Linked DNA regions of Homo sapiens. The protein of the gene in region 2 interacts with the protein of the main gene of each other region in a biochemical or structural test. Each region holds a gene or a part of one and is shown on either strand. Other genes may lie near its edges.

Region 1 (2,828 bases), on a different chromosome or scaffold from region 2:
CCATATCCCCAGAACCTGGGACCAGGCAGGGACTTCCCTATTTAAAAGCCATTGGCACTTCCCACTGCCCTCTGTACCAAGTTCAAACCATTCAGCCCTTGGGATTTAAGACGCTTTACAATCTGTCCACTGCTGACCCTCCTCCATCAGGTCTCCCCTGGCTGGGTGATTCTGCCAACAGCCAAACACCCCTGGCCCTTCAGATTCTCCAGCATTTACAGTCTTTGCCTGGAATAACGATACTAAGTACCACTTATCAGGGGCCCGCTCTGTGCCAAGTACTTCACATGCACTATTTCTAAACCTCACGCAAGCCCTGAAAAACAGGTATCATGATCCCCATTTTCCAGATAAGAAACTGAGGCTCAGAAGGAAATTGATGGCAGAGACTCGATTTGTACCTGTTCCCTCTTAGCTGCTGGAGGGATGCTTGGGCAGTGTGGGGTGGTGATAATCAGCAGGGCCTTTAGCATTAGACCCGGTCTGTAGTAACTGCTCAATGAATGGTAGCCACAGTTGTGACTGGATATCACTACCTGTCTGACCAGCACATGAATAGAGGGGTCTGGTAGTCTCAAGTTTCTAAAGTTAGATGGACCTGGAGTGGTGTCCTGGTTGAACTACTCACTAACTGTGTAGCCTTGGACATATATGTATCTGTGAGCCTCAGTTTCCTCAGATTAAATGAGATTATGTGTGAGGAACCGTGGCTGGCTAGAGTGGGTGGTCAGTAAACAGCAGCTCATATTATAGTCATTATTCATCCTCCACATCCTCAAGTCTTCCCTGCCACTCAGTAGTCCCCTGGTTCCCAGATGACACCTTTACACCCCTGTCACTGAGCTTGTCAGTGTGACCTACACATCTGTCTCCCCCACCAGAGTGGGAGCCCCAAGAGGCGCAGTCTCTTCCTCTCCAGTGTGTCCATTACCTGGCAGAGGGCTGGGTCTTGAGAAGAACTGGGCCAGTGACCAGTAACCCTGTGATAGCCTTCTCCTGGGCCTCCTAACTAATTGTCTGGAATTGCTGCTTACTCATGGTTTCATGGGAGCCAACTTGTCATTAATCAGGCACTGGGGCTTGCAGAGCTCTGTGTGCACCAGCTGTCTGGGGCCCCCGGGCCGCCCTAAAAGAAGCCAGGGTCTGGATAGCAGAGGCCACCAGAAAGGGGTCCTGAGGATGCCCAGGGAATGGGTCTAGCTTGACTGACACCCGGGCGTGGTGGCTCCAGCAGGACTGGGGTTTACCAGTACACACCAGTGCAACACACTAAGTGGTAAAATGCCAACATTCCTTCAGATAGTCAGTACCCAGCTGCTGTCCATGTCCGGGTGATCCTCCACCATTCTGGCCACCTGGCCCTACCATCAGGACCCCCAGATCCCCCTACCATCAAGCAACTAAAGAGTCAAATGCCTGGCTCACAGGAGTCCATGGCAAACATTAGGGCTTTCCCCTCTCTAGCCATAGGTATGGGGAGGGCATCACATCTCCACCTGGAGAGAAGACCCAGACCTTAGCAAGAGGAGAAGCCAAAGTCAAGAGTCCAGCAGTGGCTGGGGCAGCAGTCTGTGGAGCTGAGGGACCAGAAGGGAAAGGATTCAGAGATGCAGAAGGAAAGGGGGCAAGAGCTTGTGCAAAGCTGCGTGACAGGATTAGTCAGGGCACATTTCAAAGATGCTGAAAAGGCCCTTCTGGCTAGAGCAGAGGATGTGCAGAGGAGAAAATAATAACAGACAATTGCTAATGTCTACCAAGTACCAATTATATGCCAAGCCTTCCGCTCAAGTCCTTATCTCACTCTATCCCTGCAATAGCCTTGTGAGGCAGGGGATTAACACCCCCACTTTACAGGTGAAAAAATGTGTAAAGCCTTAGGAAAAAGGCAGATAAAATAGAGCCAGAGCCCTGGCCATCTTCAAGGCTGGGCTGAGGGGATGGGTGGTTTCTGAAATAAAGCTAACATGCAGCACACTTAAACTTGTACTAACAAAAGGCATTTATATCCGGTCCTTAAATCTCCTTGTGAAGTCAGTATGAGCGTACAGATGAGCAACCTAAGATTGAAGGCCACTTCCAGAACTGGAAGCCAGACCTCCTGGCTATGAGTCCAGAGCCCTCTCAGTAGACAGCTCTAAGTAGTGGCCAGCCAGAGCTTTTCTCCACTTATGTGCTGTGTGATTTTGGGCACATCACCTCACCTCTCTGAGCCTCATGGGGTTGTTGTAAGCACGCACTGAGCTCATGAGCACCTCACTCAATGCTAGGCTCATAGTGGGCCCTCAATCAATTAGTTAGAAGATGGCTGGGTATCCAGATGGAATGTAGACAGTGGTGCCAGATGGCCCACTCACACAGGCTGTGTGGCCTCAAGCAAGTGCCTTTATCTCTCTGAGCATCCGTTTCCTCTGGTGTAAATGAGGATCAACTAGACATAGCTGGACTGTGCTCTGCAGAAATGTCAATTCATAAAAGATAAAGAAAGGATGAGGAGCTATTCCAGATTAAAGGGGGCTAAAGAGACATGAGAACTAGATGCAATGCATGACCCCAGGTCAGGGCCAAAAATGCTATAAAGAACATTATGGAGACAGTTGGCAAAATTGGAATATGGTTGGTAGATTAGATAATAGCATTGTTTCTATGTTAAATATCCTGGCTTTGGTAATCATATTATGGGTTATGTAAGAGAATGTGCTTATTTTTAGGAAATATATCCTAATGTATCCAGGGGTAAAGGGCCAATGTTCAGAACAGCAAGAAAATGTTACACACTAGTGTGCACACACGCACACACACACTGATAATGATGAAGCAACTGTGGGAAA
Region 2 (3,500 bases):
CTCACTGTACATTTCATGAAATCTCTTTCCTCAACAGCATCCCCATTCAGATGTCACATCCATTCCGATAATATATCAGGGAGAGATGATAACAATTATGCAATTATATTGCATAATTGAATTATATTGAAATATAATCCATCGGGAGCAGTGGCTCATGCCTGTAATCTCAGCACTTTAGGAGGCCGAGGTGGGTGGATCACCTGAGGTCAGGAGTTTGAGACCAGCCTGGCCAACATGGCAAAACCCCATCTCTACTAAAAATACAAAAAAAAAAAAAAAAAGAAATTAGTCAGGTGTGGTGGCACGTGCTTGTAGTCCCAGCTAGTTGGGGCTGGCTGTGGTGGCTTACACCTATAATCCCAGCACTTTGGGGGGCTGAGGCCAGGAGTTCAAGACTAGCCTTGCCAACATGGTGAAACCCCATCTCTACTAATAATACAAAAAAAATAGCTGGGCATGGTGGCGCATGCCTATAATCTCAGCTACTCGGGAGGCTGAGGCAGGAGAATTGCTTGAACCCACGAGGCAGAGGTTGCAGTGAGCCGAGATCGCACCACTGCACTCCAGCCTAGGCGACAAGAGTGAAACTCCATCTCAAAAAAAGAGAAAGAAATATAATTCACACATCATAAAATTCACCCATTTAAAATGAACAACTGAGGGTGCGGTGACTCATACCTATAACCCCAATGCTCTTGAGGCCAAGGCGGGAGGATTGCTTGAGACCAGGAGTTGAGATCAGCCTGGGCAACATAGCTAGACCCTGTCTCTAAAAAAACTTTTTTTTTAAGAAAACGAAAACTTAGCGGGGCATGGTGGCATGTGCCTGTAGTCCTAACTACGTGGGAGGCTGAGGTGGAAGGATCTCTTGAGCCCAGGAATATGAAGCTGCGGGGAGCTATGATTGCAGTACTATACTCCAGCCTGGACAACAGAGTGAGGCTCTGTCTCTAAAAAAAGTAAATAAAATGTACAGTTCAATAAATATCAGCATATTCATAAACATGCACAACCACCACCACAATCAATTTTAGAACATTTTCATCCCCCCAGAAAGAAACGCTGTGCCCATTAGCAGTTGCTTTCCATGTCCCCCATTACCCTCCTAGCCCTAGGCAACTACTATGTTACTTTCTGTCTCTATAGATTTGCCTACTGGGGACATTTCATTTAAATTGAATCATACAGTACGTGGTCCTTTGTGTCTGGTTGCTTTCACTTTGCAAAATGTTCATGTTGGTAGAGGTGCTTAAAAAATAAAATAAAAAGAACAACAAAAAAAGGAAGCGAAATTCATCCATGTTGTATTGTTTTAGTACTTCATATTCCTTTTCATTGTCAAATAATATTTCATTATGTGGATATACCACACTTTATTATCACATATACCATATTTTATTCCTCAACCCAGTTGATGGATGTGTGGATTGTTTACGCTTTTTGGCTATTATAAATAATACCGCTGTGCACATTAGTGTGCAAGTTTTTATATGGACATTTTTCACTTTTTTTTTTTCTTGAGACAGGGTCTTGCTCTGTCACCTAGGCTGGAGTGCAGTGGCTTGATCACCATCCATTGCAGCCTCAACCTCAAGGGCTGAAGCGATCCTCCCACCTCAGCTTCCCAAGCAGCTCGTACGACAGGAGCACACCACCATTTTTTATAGAGACAAGCGTGTTGGGGGTGTTGGTGGGGGGGGTCTCACTATGTTGCCAAGTTGGTCTCAAACCCCTGGGCTCAAGTGATCCTCCCACCTCAGCCTCCTAAAGTGCTGGGATTACAGGCCTGAGCCACCACACCTGGCCCATTTTTCACTCTTAAACTTACAGTTGTATTGTCATACTAAACTAAGTTAATTGCTGTTTAATTTTTTATTAGCAGGTATAACAATACATTATGCACCATGGTCCAACAATGACAATAAAGTTTTTCACCACTCCGGGCATTTTATCCACACCAATGTAAATGTCCTTGGGTCCCATAGCACCAAGAGACTCTGCCACCCTTTTCTTTACATCACACTGCTTTAAAGTGACTGTAGATTCTGCTTTTGCATCATCCTAAAGGTTTATTTGTTTAATTCATCAAGACTAGGATACATTAGAAATCTTGACTGGGCACAGTGGCTCACACCTGTAATCCCAGCACTTTGGGAGGCTAAGGTGGGAGGATTGCTTGAGCCCAGGAATTTGAAACCAGCCTGGGCAACAAAGTGAGATGGAGTCTTGCTCTGTTCACCCAGGCTGGAGTGCAGTGGCAAAATTTTGACTCACCGCAACCTCTGCTTCCCAGGTTCAAGCAATTCTCCTGCCTCAGCCTCCTGAGTAGCTGGGATTACAGGCATGTGCCACCATGCCCGGCTAATTTTTTTATTTTTAGTAGAGACAGGGTTTCACCATGTTGGCCAGGCTGGTTTCGAACTCCTGACCTCAGGTGATCCACCCGCCTCGGCCTCCCAATGTGCTAGGATTACAGGTGTGAGCCACCATGCCCAGCCCTTTCCTTTTTTTTTTTTTTTTTTTTATAGGAGACAAGGGCTCACTCTGTTGCCAAGGCTGTAGTACAAGTGCAGTGGCATGATTCTAGCTCACTGCAGCCTCAGATTCCTGGGCTTAAGCAATCCTCTTGCCTCAGCCTCTCAAAGTGCTGGGATTACAGGTGTAAGCCAGGACACCCGGCCTCCTTTCTTTTGAATGATATTAATCTGTTCATCATTCAGCACAATTTGGAGCAAAGGAACTAGTAAGTCTTCAACAGGCTTTCACTTCATCCTGCTCCCCCAGTAGTAGGGTCATACAAAAAGTCTACGAAGGTAGAGGCCCTCTTATCACAGCAACAATCATCACTTAAGTCAAAGACATAAAATTAAGGGATACCTTAGTTTCATCACAGAACCAGTCCAAATGTGTTTGTTTGCATTCTCAACATTTCAGTAACCTCTAGGGAGTATTTCTTCTAACAATTATGGGTGGAATTGGGCAGTTCCCCTTTACAAGATATGTTTTATGTACTGCCACCTTTGTGCAGCTCAACCGATTTGGAATTTGCCCAGCTAAACACATTCCGGCAAAAGCTGCAGCTAATTGAAGATCTTCAACGAATTCAGCTAATTAAGACCAAACACACCCTTTCATTTGAAGGTACATTTGACAGTACCTAATACAAGGAAAAGAGCTCCTTTGTCATTCATGTATATCCAACCCAGCAGTGGTTCTGCAGGAAGCTCTGTCAGTCCACAGGCAACTTCACTCTTGTGTAGTTCCCTGTTTCAGTTGTCTCTTGATGCCCTCCCACTGTAGTTTCGTTGGTGATTATCTACCCGATGAGGGTCACATTCCCATCAGAAGAAATATCTGCCCAACTCCTCTTTGGCATCATGTTCCTTCCCTTTACAGAAGGAAATTGGTGGACTTGGCAACACAGGCTCTTTTTTAGTTACTTTCATTTTTGCCAAAGCAGCCTAACCAGCCAGGGAACTGTATTCTTGGCTGACTTC

Evidence for each region. The genes of interacting proteins can lie anywhere in the genome.
Region 1: the proteins of NAIP (region 2) and HPCA form a complex in vitro, tested with the Homo sapiens proteins (one study listed by BioGRID).

Annotation. Positions count from the first base shown.
Region 1 is NC_000001.11:32,889,491-32,892,318, reverse strand, and holds part of HPCA (neuron-specific calcium-binding protein hippocalcin), read right to left. Parts: intron 1-2,828. UniProt on the Homo sapiens protein: Calcium-binding protein that may play a role in the regulation of voltage-dependent calcium channels. May also play a role in cyclic-nucleotide-mediated signaling through the regulation of adenylate and guanylate cyclases.
Region 2 is NC_000005.10:71,015,340-71,018,839, forward strand, and holds part of NAIP (baculoviral IAP repeat-containing protein 1), read right to left. Parts: intron 1-3,500. UniProt on the Homo sapiens protein: Anti-apoptotic protein which acts by inhibiting the activities of CASP3, CASP7 and CASP9. Can inhibit the autocleavage of pro-CASP9 and cleavage of pro-CASP3 by CASP9.